2 separate regions of the Homo sapiens genome follow, and region 2 is linked to region 1. Evidence: fine-mapped expression QTL. A gene starts in region 1. The other region holds a variant in brackets. All regions are shown on one strand. Distances are between the middles of the regions.

The links. PIP is the estimated chance that this variant, and not a neighbour inherited with it, causes the effect.
Region 2: its variant is fine-mapped to the expression of POMC in whole blood (TOPMed, PIP above 0.99).

Annotation. Positions count from the first base shown.
Region 1 is chr2:25,165,336-25,181,502 of GRCh38, reverse strand. POMC (proopiomelanocortin) reads left to right here and starts at 12,923. Exons shown (of 3, transcript NM_000939.4): 1 at 12,923-13,005. RefSeq lists enhancers at 1,944-2,443, 2,444-2,945, 1,817-4,572, 12,807-12,826, cis regulatory regions at 12,621-12,646, 12,647-12,820, 12,886-12,898 and a promoter at 12,237-13,049.
Region 2 is chr2:25,121,861-25,129,860 of GRCh38, reverse strand. It overlaps EFR3B (EFR3 homolog B), which reads right to left. Exons shown (of 23, transcript NM_014971.2): 6 at 1,529-1,678. Among named protein-coding and RNA genes, the nearest start is that of POMC, 43 kb to the left of the region's middle. RefSeq lists an enhancer at 5,798-5,967. The variant T/C (reference allele first, on the strand shown) is at 4,130.

The sequences.
Region 1 (16,167 bases):
AATAATAATAATAACAGTTTTGAGATTTAATTCATACCCATACAATTGACCTATTTAAAGTATACGATAAAATGGCTTTTAGTATATTTACCAAACTGTGTAACTATCATCAATTTTAAAACATTGTCATCACTGCAAGAAAGAAACCCTGTACCCGTGTGCACTGCTTAAGTGACGGGTACACTAAAAACTCAGATTTCACCACTAAAGAACTCATCCATGTAACCAAAAACCATATGTACTTCAAAAACTATTAAAATAGGTTGGGGGCAGTGGCTCACGACTATAATCCCAGCATTTTGGGAGGCTTAGGCGGGAGGATCACTTGCGGTCAGGAGTTCGAGACCAGCCTGGCAACGTGGTGAAACCCCGTCTCTACTAAAAATACAAAATATTGCCGGTTTGGTGGCACATGCCTGTAATCACAGCTGCTTGGGAGGCTGAGGCTGGATAATTGCTTGAACCTGGGAGGTGTAGGTTACAGTGAGCCGAGATCATGCCACTGCACTCCAACCTGGGCGACAGAGTGAGACTCCATCTCAACAAACAAACAAACAAACAAAGCAAAAACTATTGAAACAAACAAAAAGGAAACCTGTATCCATTTGCAGCCACTCTTCATTTCCCATTGACACTCCCAACCCCTAGCAACCACTAATCTACTTCCTGGCTCTATGGATTTGCCTATTCTGGGTATTTCATATAAGTGGAATCATACAATATGTGAACTTTAGTGTCTGACTTTTTCCAATTAGCATCATGTTTTAAATATGCATCCATGTTGTAGTATATATCAGTATTTCATTTCTTTTTCTTTTTTTTTGTTTGTTTGTTTTTTTGTTTTTTTTTTTGAGACGGAGTTTTATTCTTGTTGCCCAGGCTGGAGTGCGATGGCATGATCTTGGCTCACTGCAACCTCTGCCTCCTGGGTTCAAGCGAGTCTCCTGCCTCAGCCTCCCAAGTAGCTGGGATTACAGGCATGCACCAACACGCCCGGCTAATTTTGTATTTTTAGTAGAGATGGGGTTTCTCCATGTTGGTCCGGCTGGTCTCAAACTCCCGACCTCAGGTGATCCACCCACCTCAGCCTCCCAAGGTGCTGGGATTACAGATGTGAGCCACCACACCCCGCCAGTATTTCATTTTTTTTTTTGTTGTTCTCAAATAATATTCCATTTTATGGATATATCACTTTTTATTTATCCATTCATCAGTAGGTAGACATTTGGGTTGCTACCACTTTTTGGCTCTTATGAATAATGCATCTGTGAGCATACAAATTTTATCAAAATGTGTGGAAAAATGTTTGAGTATATACCTAGGAAGGGAATTCCTGGGTCATATGGTAACTCTATGTTTAACATTTTGAGGAACTGCCAAACTCTTTGACAAAGTGGCATTATTTTACATTCCCATCAGCAGCAAAATACCCTTTCAAGAGTAAATAAATAAGTAGTGAGACCTTATTTATTATCTTGAAATGAAATTCATTGATAATATAACCTTCTCATGTTCATAATACATAGAAAAATAACTTCAACCTAAAGGTTGAACGATAATATAAAGGATAAATTAAAAGAACATAATTTATACATGTTTTTGTTTTTTGAGACAGAGTCTCACTCACTGTGTCACCCAGGCTGGAGTGCAGAGGCACAATCTTGGCTCACTGCAACTTCCGCCTCCCGGGTTCAAGAGATTCTCCTGCCTCAGCCTCCTGAGCAGCTGGGACTACAGGCACACACCACCACACTCTGCTAATTTTTTGTATTTTTAGTAGAGATGAGGTTTTGCCATGTTGGACAGGCTGGTCTCAAACTCCTGACCTCAAGCGATCCACCCACCTTGGCATCCCAAAGTTTTGGGATTATAGGTGTGAGCCACCATGCCCAGCGAATACATGTTTTTTGAAATGAGATGTTGAAGTCAGAGACTGGCCTTCTCAGGCGGATTAGACCTGGTCTGGAAGCATTTCCCCTAAGGGGTCTGCCAAAGGCTCCAGCCCCAGCCCCTCAATGGCACCAAGAACAGCTGCCTAGGGGGATGCTGGGAAAGGAATCACTTTCAACTGGACATAAAGGCTTTGGACAGCGTGTTAAAAACAAACCAAACTACCTTTCAAACCCATTTCAGGAGTCGTTGCACCCTTCCCATCACACACACACACACATGCACACACACATACACGTGCATGCACATGCACAGACACACACAGAGTCATGGGCTCTTTGAGCTGCTGCATAGCAGGTCACTGTGCACCAGCTCTGCCCAGCCTGGTGTCCCTCTCCTGGGGCAATGGGACTGAGGGCACAGTGGGGGCTCTCCGGGCCGCAGGTGGGCTGCCTGGATTCGCTGTCCTGGCTGCTCCATTCCTTTGAGCAGCAGGCATGGAAATGGAAGATGGGTACCTAACGGGGGCGGGGGCTGGAGAGGGAGACTGAGCTGAGTGCCTGTAAAAAGGCCACTTCAAGCCCCCTCCACGCAGCCATTGTTGGGTCTGGAGGAAGGAGGACCGCTCGGAAGCTTCTGAATGCCGCCCTGTGATGCACTCACTAATGGATGTGCATTAGTGGCGTCCTTCCTGGCCACCACGTCACTCTCCCTACCTCAACTGCTGGCTGGAGAACTCCGCATTCTTCTGGAAAAGTAGCAGTCATGCTCGAGCCCCTAACAAAGGCCTGTCCCCCACAAAAGGACCATTATGACCACCGCTGAGTCAGAATGGTGGCCGCTGGCACCTGAGCTCTGTCTGGAAAGAGCGGCAGCAGGGACGTCATCTAGCAGAGCCTGGTGTGTCTGTTATGTCCACAACATCTTCAGCAAAGACACTACTTCCAGGAAGTCTACTTGGATTGCAGAGGCGCAAGCCTTCATTGTGAAAAAAGGGCTTGGGATAAGGGAGTGGTTCTAAAAGAATACATGTGGCTCCACATGGCAATATACCCAGGTGTAATAAGCTCAGGGTAAGAGAGAACCTGCCATTGCTGATGCAGGACTGTGCACACAAACTTACAGGCTCTCTACTGGGGTGTCCCATGGAACTGGCTCTGTGTGAGGAGCGGCTGCAGAGGGCTCTTTGATCAGGGCTGGCTTTCCACAGGCCACTTGGACCCCATGGGTGGCTGCCTGCAGCAGGAGTGCTGGTAATTAGTGGCCCCATTAGTTTCCTCTGGGATTCAGAGTGAACAGAGCAGAGAACTGGCCTGCCCATGTGTGCAGACTGGAGCAGATTCTCAGAGAGAAACAGGACACGAGAAAGGCCCAAGAGACAGAAGGACAGAGCTTACCTCCTCAGCCCAGAGGACTCAGCTGTGCCCATTAGGGGCCACGTTCTGTAAGACTATTGTTTGTTTGTTTTTTAATCACAGAGCTTGACTCTAGATCTGAGCCTAGAATCATAGAATGACAGGCCTGAAACGGACCACATCCTCCCCGCCCCCATTGTTCAAATGAGGGGGCTGAGGCCTGGAGGTGGGGTGGGGGTGGGGGGAGTGACTGACCCAGGTCCCTGTGTCTGCTGGCCACAGAGCTGGGGCTAGAACCCAGGTCACCTCACCCCCTCCCACTGCTTCTTCCTCCACTCTATTTTTTTTTTTTTCTGAGGCAGGGTTTGGCTCTGTTGCCCAGGCTGAAGTGCAGTGGCATGATCATGGCTCACTGCAGCCTCCACCTCCCAGGTTCAAGTGATCCTCCCACCTCAGCCTCCTAAGGAGCTGGGACTACAGGCGTGTGCCACCATGCCCGGCTAATTTTTGTATGTGTGTGTATATACGTGTATATATATATATATATTTGTAGAAATGGGGTTCCACCATATTACCTAGGCCCTTCCTCCACTCTTGACTCTGCTTTGGACCCTGAGGGTGCTGACAACCTGCTCTAGGGAGGGGCATGGACTCTGGCCCTCCCCACTGTGCTCTGCGGCACCCAGACCATGCAGACCTTGGCCCAGGCTGCTGCACTAATGCGCGCATTAGTGGATAAAAGCAGTCTCAAGGGTCTCTTCACGAGGTCCCTTTGGCTGGAATAAAGCAAATTAAAACCCCATTCAAAGGTCAATTGAAATCTCTTTCATTCCAGTTCTCTGCACAAATTGATTCCTCTTTGCCCTTGAGGTCAAACCGAAGGCTGGTGAAGTAGCCCAGCTGCAGTGCTGCATGAGAGAAGCTCAATGAAAAGGCTGAGACTGGGGAGGGCGTGTTGCAGGGGTGAAGCGGGGCAGTGGGATCCGCCTGAATTGTAGGGCCATCTGGGGCACCAGTAACCCTCTCCTCTGCAGTGCTTCAGGCTTCAGGCCCTTTTCTGGAGGCAGCTCCCTGTCTGCCCTGCAAACCACATCAGGCTCCCCTCAGAGGGATGCTTAATTAGGGTTTCTATTGACAATTGTGGGTGCCAAGAGAAAATTTCCTTCCTTCACTCTGCCCTCTGAAGTTTTGTTGAAAATGAACTGCTAATAGACAGATTAATAGGGGAACAAGACATACAAATTAATTTCATGTGTATAGCATAGCAGAATGGTGGGAGAATGATTACCCAGTAACTCAATGAGGTCCAGATGCCTGCAGATATTTCTTGATAGGGGAAGGGAAAATGAGGGGCATAGGAGTAAATGATTTTCTGGGAAAGTGAATGCGCCCGAGGAACAATGGCCTGGGACAAAGTTCTTCTCTGTTCTTTGGGTAGGTGGTGTGAAGGTGAGAAGCAGAAAGTCATTGTGAACGCAGCCTGTCTTATTATGCAGGTAACCCCCCTAGGCTATCTCTTGGAGTTGCCCTCAGAAAAATGCAAGAAAAGTCTGTCTGGAGGCGGTGATGATCCGTCTCTTCTCAGGTGGTTAATCTTTCTTTCCTGGTTATTTGATGAGATTCCTATGAAGGGAGGCTTCAGGCAATTGTATTTCTTTTAGAAAGAAGTTTCCTTAGTCAGATATGGAAATGCCAAAGACAGTACCTTCTGGTGTTTTGGAAAAAATCAGAGAGACAGGGAGTGAGGGGAAGGTCAGGGCGAGATTTTGAAGGTTCTTCAAAGGAACTGAAGCTGCTTCTTTAGTTCCATATTTTGGGGTATAATTTTCTGAGCCCCAGTGCAATTTTAGCGGTAGTTAGGATTTCTTGAAAGTGCTCACGATTCTTGAATGCCCACATAAAGGGGAAGATACTGGGCTATTTCTCATTCAGACACAATGAAGAGGAGGCACTTCCCTGTTTCAGGTTCATGTGTCCTACAGAGGGAGTACGGAGATGTTACTGGAAAGGAATCCCAATCCGGACCCCAAAAGAGGGTCCTTGGATTTCACGCAAAAAAGAATTCTGGGCAAGTCCATAGATTAAAGTGAAAGCAAGTTTATTTATTAGGAAAGTAAAGGAATGAAAGAATGGCTACTCCATAGGCAGAGCGACCTGGAGGGCTGCTGGTTAACTTTTTTTTTTTTTTTCTGAGACAGAGTCTTACTCTGTTGCCCAGGCTGGAGTGCAGTGGCGTGATCTCAGCTCACTGCAACCTCCGTCTCCCAGGCTCAAGCAATTCTCTACCTCAGCCTCCCAAGTAGCTGGGATTACAGGCGTCTGCCACCACGCCCGGCTAATTTTTGTATTTTTAGTAGAGACAGAGTTTCACCATCTTGGACAGGCTGGTCTTGAACTCCTGACCTCGTGATCCACCTGCCACGACCTCCCAAAGTGCTGGGATTACAGGCTTGAGCCACCACGCCTGGCCTGGTTAACTATTTTTATGGTTATTTCTTGATGGTATGCTAAACAAGGGGTGGATTATTTATGTTTCCCCTTTTAGACCATATAGGGTGACTTCCTGACATTGCCATGGCATCTGTAAACTGTCATGGCGCTGGTGGGAGTGTAGCAGTGAGGACCAGAGGTCACTCTCTCAGTGGCCATCTTTGTTTTGGTGGGTTTTGGCCGGCTTCTTTACTGCAAACTGTTTTATCAGCAAGGTCTTTATAACCTGTATCTTGTGCCGACCTCCTATCTCATCCAATGACTTAGAATGCCTAACCATCTGGGAATGCAGCCCAGTAGGTCTCAGCCTCATTTTACCCAGTCCCTATTCAAGATGGAGTTGCTCTGGTTCAAACGCCTCTGACAAAGAGGGTTTTGGAGAATCATGAGTTTCTGCAAACTGAGGGTTAAGAGGGAGAGGGTCTCCCTTCCTCATTCATCCCCTCCTACCCTTGCTGTACAAATATTTTTCAAGCACCAACTCTCTACCAGGCACTGATTATGGGAGCTGTGCCCTTAGAGGCAACCGGCACCAGCTGAGCAGCCCAAGGGCCCCTCTAGACCAAACAACAGCAGGAATGAAGAGGCCCTGGCTGAGCCTAAGGAGTTCCGAGAAGGGACAATTGTTATTCCATGAGACAGGGATGGCAGCTGCCCCCAGCTTGTCCATGGAGACTATGGAGAGAGAATGAAGAAGGGCGTGCCAAGGTGGAGCTGGGGCTCCTCGTTCAGACCCTTAAGGCATGAATTGGTGCTTATTCCAGCAAAGTCCCCCACAGACATGAGGCAGCTTCATCCCTAAGTCTTCTCTTCTCCCAGGGTAATGTCCCCCATTGCCAGTCCCAATGCCTGGAGGCTGACAACGAGGCCACCCTCCTTGTACCTCCTTATCCCCTGCCCCATGTTGGGCTCTGCCACCCTGTCCTTGTTTCTGTCCTCTCAGTCATCAGCCTCCCCTGCACCTGCCCTTGTAACGCACTCACACCCTGGTGACATCTCTTTTCCAATTAAAACCTCAAAGGTGAAAAGCTGAGATGATGAGAGCAGCCCCAGCCCTACGTCTACAGCCACCTGGCACGCCCGCAGCCAGGTGCAGGTGCATCGCCCCGGCCCCAGGAGTCCTCACAAGCAGGGTCTCCCAACAAACCCATCAGCTACCCTGTCCAAAAGACCCTGTGTCTGCTCCTGTCTTACCTCCTTCCCTCCTTTCTTCCCTCCTTCCTTCTTTCATTTATTCCTTCCCTCCTTTCTTCCTTCCCTCCCTCCTTCCTTCTTGTCTTCCTTCCTTCTTTCCTTCCCTCCTCCCTTCTTTTATGTCTTCCTTCCCTCCCTTCCTTGCTTCTTCCTCCCTCTCTTTCTCCCTCCTTCCAACCTTGCCTTCTTTCCTTCCCTCCCTCCTTCTACTTCCTTCCTCCCTCTATCCCTCTCTCCCTCTCTCCCTTCCTTCCTTCCTTCCTTCCTTCCTTCCTTCCTTCCTTCCTTCCTCTTCCCTCCTCCCTTCTCACCAACACTCCCATAATATTAAAGTTAAGGGCTAGCAGTTGTACAGGACTAACTAGGGACCAGGCCCTGCTCTAAGATCTTTACATGAATTGCCTCCTTTAATCCATATGACAGATAGTGGTCGAGCTGGAGTATACAAACAAAAAGAAGCTTTTGAGCCCCTGAAATACCATAGGCAGGAAGCAAGCAAGAAAATTATTCAGGTGCAAATCTTGGCTATTATGGAAAAGGAAAGCTAACACAGAGAATAGACCAAGAGCCCAGAGGATGGAACCAAGAGCCCAGAGGATGGAACCAAGAGCTAAGGAGATTCATTCCGGGCAGTGGAACTGCCTTCTGAAGGAACTGGTCACGTGGTCACACGTGCCAGGCCAGATTTCAGAATTTCCTTTTTTCTCTTTTCTCTATTTCTTTCTTTCTTTCCTTTTTTTTTTTTTTTTGACAGAGGCTTGCTCTGTTGCCCAAGCTGGAGTGCAATGGCCTCACTGCAACCTCCGCCTCCCAGGCTTAAGCGATTCTCCTGCCTCAGCCTCCCAAATTGCTGGGATTACAGGTGCAAGCCACCATGTCTGGCTAATTTTTGTATTTTTAGTAGAGATGGGGTTTCACCATGTTGATCAGGCTGGTCTCGAACTCCTGACCTTGCGATCTGCCCGCCTTGGCCTCCCAAAGTGCTGGGATTACAGGCATGAGCCACCACGCCTGGCCCTTTCTGCCATCTTTATCCTTGATCCAACATTACCCTCCACCCACAATCACCATTCAGTTCATAGAGTTTTGTTTTGTTTTGTTTTGTTTTGAAACAGAGTCTCGCTCTTGTTGCCCAGGCTGGAGTGCAGTGGCATGATCTTGGCTCACTGTAACCTCTGACTTCCGGATTCAAGCAATTCTCCTGCCTCAGCTTCCTGAGTAGCTAGGACTACAGACATGCGCCACCATGCCTGGCTAATCTTTGTACTTTTAGTAGAGACGGGATTTCACCATGTTGGCCACAGTGGTCTGGAACTCCTGACCTCAGGTGATCCGCCTGCCTCGGCCTCCCAAAGTGCTGGGATTACAGGCGTGAGCCACTGTGCCCGGCTGAGTTGTGCTGTTTTTATGCCAGGATCAAATGGAGAAATGCACAAAAATAGTGAGGAGATTTAAAAAGCATACTTTTCTCAGTAACTAATAGAATAAGACGACAAATAGCAAGGATATAGGTAGAGAAAGGATATAGAATATTTGAGAATATACAGTCACAGAATACAGTGCAGTGAGACACTTCTTTTGGAGTGCACAGGAAGCCCTAATCAAAATGAGCCCTATGTTTATCTGTTAAGCAAGCCTCAAAAAATTTCGAAGGTCTGAAATCAAACAGAGCATATTCTCTGACTACAAGGGAATTAAGCAAAAAATTAGTTTAAAAACATGACTGGAAAATCCCCAAGGTTTAGAAGTTTTTCTTTTTTTTCTAAGTTGGTAATATGAATTGGAAGGGTTAGAGGTTAAGCAGAATATATTTGAATAACCTATAGGTCAAAGAAGACATCTCAATGAAAATAAAAAGATATTTTGAACAAATGGTAATTGAAATATGACATATCAAAAGTTGTGGGATGCATATAAAGCTGTACTTAGAAAGAAAATATAGCCATAAATACATATGTAAAAAAAGAATAAAGGAGCTGGGCACAGTGGCATGCATCTATAGTCCCAGCTACTAGAGAGACTGAAGTGGGAGGATCACTGGAGCCCAAGAGTTGAAGATGAGTCAAGGCAATATTAAAAAAAAAAAAAAAAAAAAGGAAAAAAATGGTTCAATATCAATTATCTAAGTAAAAGTATTTATTTAATGTCCAACTCATGAGTATAGGAAAAGAATAGCTAATTAAACCCAAAGATGTAGAAGGCACGATATAATAAGAGTAAAAATTTCAGAAATATAAAAAAGTATACATATAGTACAGAAAATTAACAGAACCAAAATGGATTATTAAAAAGACTAATAAAATGGATAACACCCTAAGAAAACTAATCAAGAGGCCAGGCACAGTGGCTCACGCCTGTAATCCCAGCACTTTGGGAGGCTGAGGCCGGCAGATCACCTGAGGTCAGGAGTTTGAGACCAGCCTGGCCAATATGGAGAAACCTCATCTCTACTAAAAATACAAAAAATAAGCCAGATGTGGTGGCACATCCCTGTAATCCCAGCTACTTGGGAGGCTGAGGCAGGAGAATTGCTTGAACCCGGGAGGCGGAGGTTGCAGTAAGCCGAGATCATGCCATTGCACTCCAGCCTGGGCAATAAGAGTGAAAGTCTGTCTCAAAAAGAAAAAAGAAAATGAATCAAGAAAAAAGAGAACACAAATAACCAATATCAGAGATGAAAAGGGCCAAAACCACAGATCCCAGATGCTTAAAATATATAATAAACAATTTTAAGCCAATAAATTAAAGAATTTAGATGAAATAGACAAATTCCTAGAAATACATATCTGACTCAAACTGACACATGAAGAAGTAGACAATTGAAATAGTGCCACTTAAGTAATTGAATTTGTAATGGTTTAAAACATTTTTCCTTCTTTTTTCCAGCTCCAGCTGAAAGGATTGATTCTGTAATTAAAAACTTCAATGAACAAACAATCTTAAAGATTTAGATGGCATCACTGGTGAATCATCCCAAACATTTAAGGACGAGATAACACCATTATACGCAAATTATTCTACTTAATTATAAAAAGGGGGAGGGAAGATGGATTTCCAACTTGTTTTATGAGAACAGCATAATTTTTTGATACTCAAATTAGACAAGAATTCCACAAGAAAGGAAAATTACAGGCCCATCTCATGAACATCAATGCAAATGTCTTAAATAAAATATTAGCAAATTGAGTCCAGTGCTTTCTGTATAAGGATAATACATCATAATCAAATTGGGTTTAATCTAAGAAGCCATGGTAGGTTTAACACCAAAAAATCAACAATGCAATAATTCACCACATTACTAGAATAAAGGTGAAAAATTATGTCATGTCAGACAATCAAAGGCACCTGTTCTAGGCTTTCAAAGAGGAGCTAGTGGTACAAGGATGCAAGGGCAGTGGTGACTCCTTTCTAGTGGCATTAGCTGAAGTGAGAATGGCAGCGTCCCATCCTGGGGACAGAAGTGACGTCTATGTCAGACGCCTGTGGTCTTGACATGCCCCTTGTGGCCCCTTGTGGTCTGTTTTTTTTTTCTCCACTGGATGTGATTTTGGCCATGGTTCCAGCCACACTGTGTCCCTGCCCATTTTTAGATCCTGGTCCCCCAACCTGCCCAGTGATTTTTTTTTTTTTTTAGATGGAGTCTTGCTGTGTCGCCAGGCTGGAGTGCAGTGGCGCGATCTCGGCTCACCGCAACCTCCGCCTCCCAGGTTCAAGCGATTCTCCTGCCTCAGCCACCCGAGTAGCTGGGACTACAGGTGTGCGCCACCACGCCCGGCTAATTTTTGTATTTTTAGTAGAGACGGGGTTTCGCCATCTTGGCCAGGAATGTCTCCATCTCTTGACCTCGTGATCTGCCCAACTCAGCCTCCCAGAGTGCTGGGATTACAGGCGTGAGCCACTGTGCCCCGCCTACCCAGTGATTCTAAATGCAGTTCAATGGCCTTTCAGTTCATGGAGGCCAAAGCAGGTTCTGCTGCATTAAATTAAGAAACTGGGCTGGGTGTGGTGGCTAACACCTGTAATCCCAGCACTTCAGGATACTGATGTGGATTACTTGAGCCCAGGAGCTTGAGACCAGCCTAGGCAACATAGTGAAACCCTGTCTCTACCAAAAACAAAAACAAAAACAAAACAAAAAACCAAAACCCAAAATTAGCTGGGCATGGTGGCATGCATCTGTGGTTCCAGGTACTCAGGAGGCTGAAGCATGAGGATCACTTGAGCCCAGGAGGTGGAGGCTGCAGTGAGCAGTGTTCACACTGCTGCATTCCAGCCTGGGCAACAGAGTGAGACCCTAATTCAAAAACAAACAAACAGAATGAGAGAGAGAGAGAAGAAAAGAAAGAAGGAACCCAGTTAAAGAAGTTGGGTCCATTTGGATTTTTCCTGGTTTGTTTTATCTGCTGCCACCAGCAGCCTCCTGAAGTTACAAAAATAACACAAAGTAAAATAAGGCAAAACCACCATCTGCTTGAAAGAGTTTACAAACCTGATGGTGGTCGTGGGGTGGATGGAAGATTAAAAAAATGGGGACAGAAGTGAATTAGTGCAAGCCACTTGCACTGACAAGATGGGGATGGACTTCTGTGGAAGGCAGAGGAGGTCATGCCTCATGCCCCTGGTAGGAAAAGTGGCCAAAGAGGGCTTCAGAGAACAGGGGCTGATGGATGGGCTACATCTTGATGTGAGTCAAGCTCCTGGATGGCTGGAGAGAGGAAGGATGTTCTAGTTGGGGGAACAGCTTGGACAATGGAGACCCAAGAAAGCCATGTTCTAGCAGTGTGAATGTTGTGGATGCTGAAGTGCCAGGATGCAAGGTGGAGAACTGGGAAATGGCCCTGGAAAGGGGCCAAAGCCGGGTGATGAAGCACCTTGTCTACTGTGACGGAGCTTGGATCTCTCTTGTGGTCCAAAGGGAAAGGATTGCTGAATGTAAAGCCAATGTCACCAGAAAAGCTGAATCCACAAGAGAGTCCTGGAGTCCAAAAGAGCATCTCATGGGGAATCAGGAAAGTTCTGGCATTTGGCAGATTAAGCAAGTGTCTTGATTTGAAGTCCAGTTTAGTCCCAATACTCCCTCCCACACCCACCACATCGCACAATTTGGTTTTGTTTATTTACTCCAGGTTAAGGTAGAGTCTCTTAGCTTGGTTTGAGTGCTGTACTCTTCTCTCTGGTCTGATATTTGGAACTAAAGCCAAGCCAGAACTCCAGGGCCAAGGGGGATGTTGAAAATTGTCTGAGTCCCCAGACCACCCTGCCAGCTCATGGCAAAGGGAGGGATCAGAGGCCACAGGGAAAGCACTTCAGCTGCTCTTCACAGCATCACCCTCTCCCCATTTAATGGTTTAGGTTAACAGGACTTTTTCCTTGAGGCTTGGGACACGGAAGGGAGCCTCCCCTAAACCAGGCCCTTGGAGAGCAGGCCCCAGGGGAGCAGTGCAACTCACCTTCACACCCACAAGACGGCTCCTGACTTCTGCTCCCTCCTCCCCTCCCCAAAGTGGAACAGAGAGAATATGATTCCCCACGACTTCCACATCACAGTTTCCAAACAATGGGGAAATCGGAGGCCTCCCCGTGTGCAGACGGTGATATTTACCGCCAAATGCGAACCAGGCAGATGCCAGCCCCAGCACGCACGCAGGTAACTTCACCCTCGCCTCAACGACCTCAGAGGCTGCCCGGCCTGCCCCACACGGGGGTGCTAAGCCTCCCGCCCGTTCTAAGCGGAGACCCAACGCCATCCATAATTAAGTTCTTCCTGAGGGCGAGCGGCCAGGTGCGCCTTCGGCAGGACAGTGCTAATTCCAGCCCCTTTCCAGCGCGTCTCCCCGCGCTCGTCCCCCGTCTGGAAGCCCCCCTCCCACGCCCCGCGGCCCCCCTTCCCCTGGCCCGGGGAGCTGCTCCTTGTGCTGCCGGGAAGGTCAAAGTCCCGCGCCCACCAGGAGAGCTCGGCAAGTATATAAGGACAGAGGAGCGCGGGACCAAGCGGCGGCGAAGGAGGGGAAGAAGAGCCGCGACCGAGAGAGGCCGCCGAGCGTCCCCGCCCTCAGAGAGCAGCCTCCCGAGACAGGTAAGGGCGCAGCGTGGGGGACCCGTGCTCTTTCCCCGGGATCCCCTGTCCCCGTCCTCGCGATGCAGTCGGCCGGCTCCGGCTCCGAAGGCGGACCTGGGCGCCTCTGGCTCTCCGCGGTCCCGAGTTCTCGACAAACTTTCTGCGCCGACTGCGGCATGAGAAGCCGCCAGTAGCTGAGCTGGAGGGCCCACGTCCGGCCCCTGGGCGGACGGCCGCGAAGCTGCAGGCGCTGTCTCCAGGGAGCCGGCGGCCTCCTCTCCCCCAGGGGCTCGCGGCGGTCCGGAGGCTCCGAGAGCTTGCTAGGAGGTCTTGGGACAACCCGGTCTTTTTTTTTTTTTTTGAGACGGAGTTTCGCTCTTGTTGCCCATGCTGGAGAGCAAAGGGGTGATCTCTGCTCACCGCAACCTTCGCCTCCCGGGTTCAAGCGATTCTCCTGCTTCAGCCTCCCGAGTAGCTGGGATTACAGGCATGCGCCACCACGCCCGGCTAATTTTTGTATTTTTAGTAGAGACGGAGTTTCTCCATGTTGGTCAGGCTGGTCTCAAACTCCCGACAACAGGTGATCCGCCCGCCTTGGCCCCCCAAAGTTCTGGCATTACAGGCGCGAGCCACCGCCCCCGGCCAGCCCGGTCTTTTAGTATCTCTTGCTCCCAGTTTCCAGGATAGGTGTCACATCTTGAAAGTCAAATTCCATACACGCTATCGCAAATTAATGTTGGAAACGGGGCAGCAGAGAAAAGGATAAAAGTCATAATGAACGCCCTGCCTTCCGGATTTTTTCGGATTCAGACCCCTGAATCCTTGTTTCCTTGCCCACCTTAGCGCACCCGAGGTGGCCGCGCTATGATAATTACATGATAACTGGGTCAATTACAATGCAGAATAGTTGGGTCTCTTCTCTCCAAGACCTAGCTGGGGTTAAAAACAGGTGGCCGGGGCGGGAGCTGTCCTAGATCCTGAAACGCACTGTCTAGTTTCGGATGCCCTCAACAGAACCGGGGTGGACGGTTTATGGCGCAGATCCTGGGTTGAGGGCACGGGCAGCCATTTGGAATGATCAAGGCTCAGGTAAGGGGCGTTTCCAGCGAAGGAGAGACAGTCCACTTGGCATTTGGATTCCCCAAATTCTTCATGTTTAAATGGGGCAGGGAGGGTTCTTACAGAATGGCTGGAAGGAGCCAAGGAAAATAAAAGTGTGTGTGGATTTTTTTTGTGTGTGTGTCAGTTTATAAACTCTGCACAGATTATGGCCACTTTAATGACTTACTGTTCCTTTGATGCTTTTGTTATAGGACTCGATGCATGTATGTCATGGTGTAAGGACAAAACTCGGCCCCTGTGCTCCTCTAATCTTTACAAAAGGTCATGGCCAGCGTGCAGTTTTACAGTAACAAGCAAAATGATTTGTTGAGCTCATAGAGAGCCCCTCACACCTATGAAGTTCTAATAAGTGTAGTTCTACTATAAAGTTAATCTCAGGATGAGCAAATTTCAAGTTTCTATTTTTCCAGAGCTTTCCATTTTTGGATTATAATACTTTCCCTACTTAAAAAAGCACAACATTTGATATTTCCCCAATAATTTGTTGCTTTAAAAATGACACAAAAGGTACTATTTGTTCATTGTAGAGAACTGAAAATACACATAAGCAAATACACATACACATAAGCAAAATATACAATACAAACACAAGACCATCTTTCAGGGAAGAATCTGAAGTTTTAGCAATAGCAGCCATCTAACCAGTTTAGCAACAGAATATAAGCTCTGAGAGGGTGGGAGTGAATATGTTACCACATTGTACAACACAGCACATAGGGCATAAGGAGGGGAAATGCTCTCTGGGGCTTTCCAGGAAGGCCTGAAGTCATTGCTTCTAGCAAATGGAAATCACTCCAGAGTAGTTATCTTTGACAAGAATTGAAATATAATTGAGGGAACTATCAGACCTGTAAGATTTTGTTTTTTCCTTTACTAATATGTTACTTTACATTTGCATTTGGTGACATACGTAACTACCATTTTTCTGTGACTGTAACATCTGGGCATTTTTCAGAGCTAAATGTGCTATGGTCAACTTGGAGCTTTAATCTAATTGCCTGGTCCACCAAGTTCTGGCTGTGTACTTGAATAGATCACTGGCAGGGTACAATGGGAACAGCCTGTCCCTTGGAGCCAGGAGAGGACACCAAGGTTGACCAAAGCTCGTTCAGTTGCCCCTTTAGCCGAAGCGCACCTGGGCCAGTCACTGGCTGCCAGTGCCATCTAATGGCTGCTCTGAAAATGCTCAGCCTTGCCCGGCAACCCTTCAGAAGCTAGCACCGTGCAGGCCCAGCGCCTGGGGAATAGGGCGAGGGTGGGGTAGAGAGAAGGAAGTGGCCTCCTGAAGTAGAAATCAGCGCTTCAGAGGACTTTCACTTCCAAAGCCTCCCCTATATAAAAAAGATTTGGCCCACGCCTCCCCAAATGAGAGATTTATTTTAGGCAAACTTATTTTAAAATGCCAGCGTTCATTAGGAGTGACAAGACACTTAGTCATCCACGCTTTAATGTGAATTACTTTTCTCATCTAATTACATTTCTTTCTAGCAGCTGGCTGAGAAGATCTTCTGAAATCCAAAATGATTGTAGGGTTGGCGGTGAGCTGATCTCCGGCCTCGAGGTGGCTTCAGGGGGCCCACCTGGTTAAGGGAAATTTGGCAGTGCGAGGGTAGTGCTGGAGAGAGGGGTGGGTACAGGGGGCTAGGGGCACCATGGATGCCCCCTCCTTACTGTCCCCTGGTGTCTTGACCTCAGCTTCTGCCCACAGGCACTTGCTGGATTCTCCAAAAGTATCTGCAGTGGCTGTTCCACCAGGAGGTAATTCCCTTCTGGTCTCTTTCCCCTCCACATCTGCATCCTCTTCAAATCCTGCCATTTCAGACCACATTTGAGAGCTCTAGAGAACAAGACATCTGACACGTGACGTGTCCAGAAGATGAGCCAGATTTCAAAGAACTGAGATCTGCTTTAAAAACGAAGCTCTCCAAAGTTACTGGAGTCTGGGTAATAGTGATCACCAGAGTAATTTGTGTGCAGGACATCAAATCAGGCTGCTCGAAATGCTGCCTAAATTGGCCAGTGGTTTTATTTGCTTTTCTGTCAACCTAATATTCATAG
Region 2 (8,000 bases), 48 kb after region 1:
TTGCACTAGGCAATAGGGGAGGCGTCACAGCTGTCAGAAATTAAATGGGGGTAAAGAAGCCCCCACTGGGGGAAGTGGGGGAAGACCGGAGAAGAAAAGATAAAGTTCTTTTTCTGGAAATCCTTAAAGATTTCCAGATGTACCACTGTGGGAAGGATGCTCTGAGCCCCATGGGCCAGGTGAGGTGTAGAACATGTGTGTCTTGATGCACCTAAGACTTCAGAAGGAAAAGGAGATGGGAGATGAAGATAGGAAAGGGAGGCAAAAAACAAAACAGAAGTGGAAGAAAGGAGAGGAAAGAGAGGGAGGGAAAAGGAAAGGCACAGTGGTTGGCTCAGGCAAGAGTCAATGATACTCAAGTCACAGGGAGTGGGCCCACATCTGGACAGAACAGGAGCCGGAGGACTCCCAGCCCAGAGACCACAGCAGCTTGTCAGTGAGATGCTATTCCAGAAACAGCCACCAGATGGCATACGAACCCCACCCCACCCCACGCCCCACCCCACGCCCCGCCCCCGCCCCCGCCCCCGCCCCCGCCCCCGTCGACCCGAGTCTAGCTCTAGTAGCCTGGGATCAACCGACCTAACTAGCCTAGTGCACAGATAGCCCAGGTGGGACAGCAACGTGGGCCTTTCTCCCCATTCCATTTCACCGAGGGGAAAAATGAGGGTGCAGGGACAGGAATGAATCCCATGCTTAGGGGATCCAGGATTAAAACCCAGTATCTGCAAGCTCTTACTGAGTGGCTGCGGGCTGGTCAAGCATGCACGTTTTCAGGGCCTGAAATAGCATCAGGAAGCAACAGAGGAAGGAAGGTCCAGATGGAAAGTCCGCAGTGATCGGAGCCATGAAAGGCATCTTTTTTTTTTTTTTTTTTTTTTTTTTTTTTTTTTTTTTTTTGAGACGGAGTCTCGCTCCGTCGCCCAGGCTGTAAGTGCAGCGGCGCGATCTCGGCTCACTGCAAGTTCTGCCTCCCGGGCTCCCGTTCTCCTGCCTCAGCCTCCCGAGTAGCTGGGACTACAGGCGCCCGCCACCACGCTCAGCTAATTTTTTTGCATTTTTTTTTAGTAGAGACGCGGTTTCATCGTGTTAGCCAGGATGGTCTCGATCTCCTGACCTCGTGATCTGCCCGCCTCAGCCTCCCAAAGTGCTGGGATTACAGGCGTGAGCCACCGCGCCCGGCCCACAAAAGGCATCTTAAAGCCTCCTTGGCCCTGCTTCCAGGGAGACAAAGGTAACCAGACTCTTGGTTCTGTGTGTTATTACCAACAGATTTACCCACCAGGGAGCCCAGCACCAACACTGTCCTCCTTCGGTAACGCACATGTTAAGGGACACTGTGGGCTGGCACAAAGTCAGACCCATGGCTTCTAGGGAGCCAGCTTTGGACTCACTGCAGAACAAGCCACAAAGCCATGTCCCTGGCCTTGTAGCTGAGTTTTACTGACCAACCCAAACCATGTGGTTCCCAAGCAGCCCTTGGAGGGTTGATTATATCTACTGTCCTGCCCCATCCCGGCCTGCTTACCTCTCTGCCTCCTCTACATGCTGTAGATTGAAAAGCAGTGATGGAACGATCTTATCCATGTGCTGTGGGTCCCAGATATTGGCCTGCAGTTCATCATTCACCGTCTTCCTCACCACCCCTTGCAGGCCTTTGATGCCTGACATTCGAATTCTGTAAGGAAAAGGGTGAAGTGGGACTCGGAAGTCCTCTAGCCCTGAGAAGTCCAGCTTCGGTGGCTAAGAGAAGAGCACAGCTTAGGAGTCAGGGATACATTTGTCCATCAGAAGGCAGAATGGAGACCAGCTGCTACTCTCATGAGACCTCCTGGTGCTGGCAGACATGAGCCCAGGAAGCCATGTCTTTTTAATCATCTTGGAGACTCCCAGGCTGCCCTTGCCCTGGTACCATCTGGGCTCCAGCCCTAGGGTGCTGGATGCTCCAGCTCCCCATCTTTAGTACTTAGCTGGGGTTGTTCCAGCTTGGGCCCAAGATGTAAGAGCTCAAAACGCTGCCAAGAACTGATGAAGCAGAATCCGAGGCTGTGAGCAACTTGCGGGGGCAGGGGGAGGCGGATCCAGAGGGAGAGGCACAGAGCTGCAGGCTCTCTGGGCACAAAGGGGTGTCGGCTTGGAGCTAGGGTTAACCAGAGGGGAAACTGAGTAACAGCACAGCAGGAGCCCCTTTTGTACACCCCCAGTCCCTGCTATGTGAACCCAGGGTCAGCACAGCTCTGTGGGAGGGAGCCCTCTTTACTAGCCATTTATTTCAGACTGAAGTTTCTTTCTTTCTTTTTTATAAAACCTTTTTTCTGGTTATAAAATAATACATACTAATCATAGAAAAGTATAGAGAAGAGAAGATTTACCACTACCACCACCACTACCACTGTTATCTTTGTTATCAAACATAACTGTTATTGGCATTTTGATGTAATTCCTTTCTTCTGTGCATAATATATAACAGAATTAAGAACCTATTGCATATTTTATTTGTATTGGCTTTTTTCACATACATTCTATGCATTTTCCTATGTCATTAACTCTTCATAAACATGTTGAATGGTTGCCTGATAGACTATCATAAGACCTTTCTAAACTAGTGACTATTAGTCATTTAAGTTGTTTCCAAATGTTTTGCTTTTTTTTTTTTTTTTTTTTTTTTTGAGGTGGAGTCTGGCTCTGTCGCCCAGGCTGGAGTGCAATGGTGCGATCTTGGCTTACTGCAACCTCTGCCTCCCGGGTTCAAGCAATTCTTCTGCCTTGGCCTCCTGAGTAGCTGGGATTACAGGCATGTGCCACTATGCCCGGCTAATTTTTGTATTTTTAGTAGAGACAGGGTTTCACCGTGTTGGTCAGGCTGGTCTTGAACTCCTGACCTCATGATCTACCCGCCTCAGCCTCCCAAAATGCTGGGATTACAGGTGTGAGCCACCGTGCCTGGCCAAACGTTTCACTTTTATAATAATGCTATGATGGGCATCATTGTATGAAATATTTTACTATGTTTCAAGTCATTGCCATGAGTGGAATCAATGAGTCAAAAGGTAAGAAATAAAAGGCAGCCAGACACAGTGGCTCACACCTGTAACCCCAGCACTTTGGGAGGCAAGGCCAGTATATAGCTTGAGCTCAGGAGTTCGAGACCAGCCTGGGCAACATGGCAAAATCTCATCTCTACAAAAAATTAAAACATTAGGCCGGGCGCGGTGACTCACGCCTGTAATCCCAGCACTTTGGGAGGCCGAGGTGGGTGGATCACCTGAGGTCAGGAGTTTGAGAACAGCCTGGTCAACATGGTGAAACCCCGTCTCTACTAACAATACAAAAATTAGCCAGGCATGGTAGCAGGCACCTGTAATCCCAGCTACTCGGGAGGTTGAGGTGAAAGAATTGCTTGAACCCAGGAGGTGGAGGTTACAGTAAGCGGAGATCATGCCACTGCACTCCTGCCTAGGCGAAAGAGTAAGACCCTGTCTCAAAAAAAAAAAAAAGAAAGAAATTAGCCAGGTATGGTGGTGCGCACCTGTAGTCACAGATACTCAGGAGGCTGGGGTGGAAGTACTGATTGAGCCTGGGAGGCAAAGGTTGCAGTGAGCTGAGATCATGTGAGATCATGGCACTGCACTCCAGCCCGGATGAAAGAGTGAAACTCTGTCTCAAAAAAGGAAATGAAAGGCTCCCAATTTGCCAAAATAACTGCCCCCACCCCCTGCCCATGCGCAAGCCGCAGGAGAATGCCACTCTCACAGTGCCTGTGGCAGTATTGAGGATCTCATTTTAAACATCTGTTCTAATTTTATGACTCCAAAAAATCCTCACATTTTGTAGCTATTTCAATTCAAATCCTTTTGTGATTATTGGAGATGAGCAGTTTTTCTCAAGGTTGAGTTGCCAGTTGCATTTTTAACTTCGTTTTTTTTTGAGACGGAGTCTCGCTCTGTCACCCAGGCACGATCTCGGCTCACAGCAACCTCCGCCTCCCGGGTTCACGCCATTCTCCTGCCTCAGCCTCCCCAGTAGCTGGGACTACAGGCGCCCGCCACCACGCCTGGCTATTTTTTTGTATTTTTAGTAGAGACAGGGTTTCACCGTGTTAGCCAGGATGGTCTCGATCTGCTGACCT[T/C]GTGATCCTCCCGCCTTGGCCTCCCAAAGTGCTGGGATTACAGGCGTGAGCCACCGTGCCTGGCCTTAACTTTGGTTTTAACTGGGGTTGCCAGGGTGCTACCCTGGGTCTTACCGAGGAACTGTGGCTGGAGGTGGCAGCAGCCTAGGAGAAACAGGATACCCTGGCCCAGAAACTTTTAGGGCCACTGGCGATGGGCAAGGATTCCCTGGAAGCACCTGGCCACGCTGTCCTGACCCTGACCACATTCAAGACCCTGAGCTGGCAGCTGTCCGGACTTGGGAATGAACGATCAGGAATACTGTCCTGCTGACTCTTCTTAGTTCCAGTTTAAAAAGGCACTCCCTAACCAAGGGACAAGTGACACACATCCCCAGCATGCTGGACTCGTTTGTCCCGTCCAAGTGGGCCTGGCTGGCAGGAAACAACGCCTGGTTGGCAGAAAAACTTCTACCCAGGGCTCCCTTATGTGTACATGTGAATTAATCTTTCTTCTTTTCCTAACTACCTTGCACTCCTTCACCTTCAGTCTCCCCAGAATCCCTTCCACAAATGCACGATTCATTCTGTGACACCCAGAGCTGACCGTGCCTTTCAAAAGAAGTTCAGAAAGATCAGGCCTGGAGGGGGAGGAAGCTTCTTACTCTTCCTATTCATTTATTTATTTATTTTTCGACACGGAGTCTCACTCCGTTGCCCAGGCTGGAGTGCAGTGGCACAATCTTAGCTCACTGCAACTTCCACCTCCCAGGTTCAAGTGATTCTTGTACCTCAGCCACCTGAGTAGCTGGGACTACAGTTGTGCGCTACCATGCCTGGCTAATTTTTTGTGTTTTCAATAGAGACGGGGTTTCACCATGTTGACCAGGCTGGTCTTGAACTCCTGACCTTAAGTAATCTGCCTGCCTCAGCCTCCCAAAGTGCTGGCCATATAGGCTTTAGCCACCACACCTGGCCCTTACTGCTCCTTTTTTTTTTTTTTTTTTTTTTTTTGAGACAGAGTCTCGCTGTGTTGCCCAGGCTGGAGTGCAGTGGCACTATCTCGGCTCACTGCAAGCTCTGCCTCCGGGTTTACACAATTCTCCTGCCTCAGCCTCCCGAGTAGCTGGGATTACAGGTGCCCGCCACCACGCCTGGCTAATTTTTTTTGTATTTTTAGTAGAGACTAAATAGGGGTTTCACCGTGTTAGCCAGGATGGTCTCCATCTCAATCTCCTGACCTTGTGATCCGCCCCGCTCGGCCTCCCAAAGTGCTGGGATTACAGGCGTGAGCCACTGCGCCCGGCCCTACTGCTCCTCTTAATGGGCACAGTGGAGATCTACCCATGACCAAGGGCCCCATGAAGTCTCTGAATCCAAGGAAAGATCAGATAATACTGATCCACTGACCCTGAGGAATCACACACACACACACACACACACACACACACACACACACACACACACACACACACTTGCATGCACAGGCCCACTGCTGGACCCAAGGGTGTTACTGGAAAGGGCAGTCAATGGCATTCAGAGGCAGCCTCTGGGTTCCTAGACCAAAATGATGCTATGTGTGTGGACAGCCCAGCACAGCTGCCACCGGGTCAGCTGAGTCTAAAAAGGCTGAGAATGAACAACAGGAGAGATCTCAGGGAAAAAGGGGTGCAGGGAGGGGACGGAAGAGAAAGGCAAGAAGAGGAGGAAGGAAGAAAATTGACACCAGAAGATCCCTCCTCCACCCTCTCTCACCCACAGGCCTTCCTGTCATGGGTGACCAGCGCCAGCCTGTGGGTGTAATGGCACTGCTGGTGGCTGGGAGCCAACCTCAGCAGCCTTCCTCCTGATGTTCAGGAAACTCCTGATCCTGCTGGAACACAGTGCTGACCACATCACACACTACAGATCATGTGTATGTGCACATGTGTCTGTGTGCATGTGTGCGTGTGTGCACGTGTGTGCAGTGGCATGAGTGGCCCATCCACTCCCCCACCACCCTGGGACAGCTTGGCAGGGCCTGCGTGGGCAGCATGTGTTACAGACATATGTGGCCATGGTCCTATACCTCCCCTAACACCTGCTTCTGGACATGCCCCCACAGCTCCAGCCCCTCTGGCTCTTCATAGCCATTTTGCAATGGTGGTGACTCAGGAAGCTAATTCTGGGAGAGGATGAGGGGCTCCTTCCTCCCATACCCCACTCTGGCCTCACCAGAGGCACTCAGGCAGGGCAGCTGCAGAGTCCACACCTGGCTTATGAGAGTCTCGGGGACTGGGGGAACCCAGACAATGCCACACAGTTGCACCGGGCCCTGCCCAGGAGTCGGTCTACTGCCTTGGAAGCATATATTCATTTTAATTTCTTTGTGATTAATTGTTTTTTTTTTTTTTGAGACAGGGTCTCACTCCGTCACCCAGGCTGGAGTGCAGGGGTGCGATCATGGCTCACTGCAGCCTCGACCTCCCAGGCTCAAGAGATCCTCCCACCTCTGCCTCCTAAGTAGCTGAGAATACAGGCACGTGCAGTCATGCCCAGCTAATTTTATTTTTTGTGGAGGTGGGGTCTCATTATGTTGCCCAGGCTGGCCTCAAACTCCTGGGTTCAAGTGATCCTCCTGCCTCAGCCTCCCAAAGTACTGAGATTACAGACATGAGCCACTGCACCTGGTCAATTTCTCTGTGATTTTATTTGAGAGATTTTGCTTCTATGTCCAAGTATGCTTCTGTGAGCTAAGTGTTTTTATAAATTGGAGTATGTGTATGTAAAAGCGTATCCCGTAAGGCAAGATGCTTGTCTGAGGGTGTTCATTCATTCTGTTATTCACTCAACAAGAATTTGTCAAGTGCCACTGCTCTCCAGGCAGTGTTAGTGCTTGGGATGCATCCGTGAGTAAAACGACGGACCCTGCCCTCACAGAGCTTACATCCCAGTGGGAAGAGACAGGTGGTGAACAAGAAACACAGAGAGTAATGTATGAAACATGTTAAAAGGGGAAAGAAACCCCGGCAGAGTGAGGGAGGAGTGGGCATGTGGGGGTGTGCAGGGCAGCTTCACTGACAAGGGGACATTTGAGCAAAGGTTTGACAGAGGCGATGCAGTGAGCCATGCAGATCCCTGGAGGAAGCATTCCCAGCACAAGCACAGACTGTGCAAAGGCCCTGAGGCAGTGTCTGTGGTGTGCTGGAGGGGAACGAGCAAGCAGGAGGGCCAAGGAGATGGAGTGGAGAATGCAGCTGGGATCAGCCAAAGTGTGAACTTTGGCTCTTTATTGGTAGGTGTAGATTTTGATGGTTAATGGTGAGTGGGTGTGTTTCTGGAGTATAAATGCATATAATTCTGAACAAAAGAGTGTATGGAGGGCTGTGTGTGTGTACACATGTGTGTTCTGTCACTGGCTCTCAAATTGGGCTCAAAGGACTGTTATCTTACATTGAGCCCCTTTGTCTGGCCCAAGCAGTTTTTCCTTTAGAAACCACATGTGGGGGCCGGGTGTAGTGGCTCCCGCCTGTAATCCTAGCACTCTGGGAGGCCGATGTGGGTGGATCACCTGAGGTCAGGAGTTTGAGATGAGCCTGGCCAACATGGTAAAACCCCATCTCTACTAAAAATACAAATATTAGCCGGGCGTGGTGGTGCACATCTGTAATCCCAGCTACTTGGGAGCCTGAGGCATGAGAATCACTTGAACCTGGGAGGCGGAGGTTGCAGTTAGCCAAGATCGCGCCACTGCACTCTAGCCTGGGCAACAGAGTGAAACTCGGTCTCAAAAAGAAAAAAAAAAAAAACAGAAACCACATGTAGGGAGCTGGGTGCTGGCCCACCTGCCCGGCAACATCAGAGCAGACACAGATACTAACAAAAGCAGACACGCAATGGCAGGTTGGAAGTT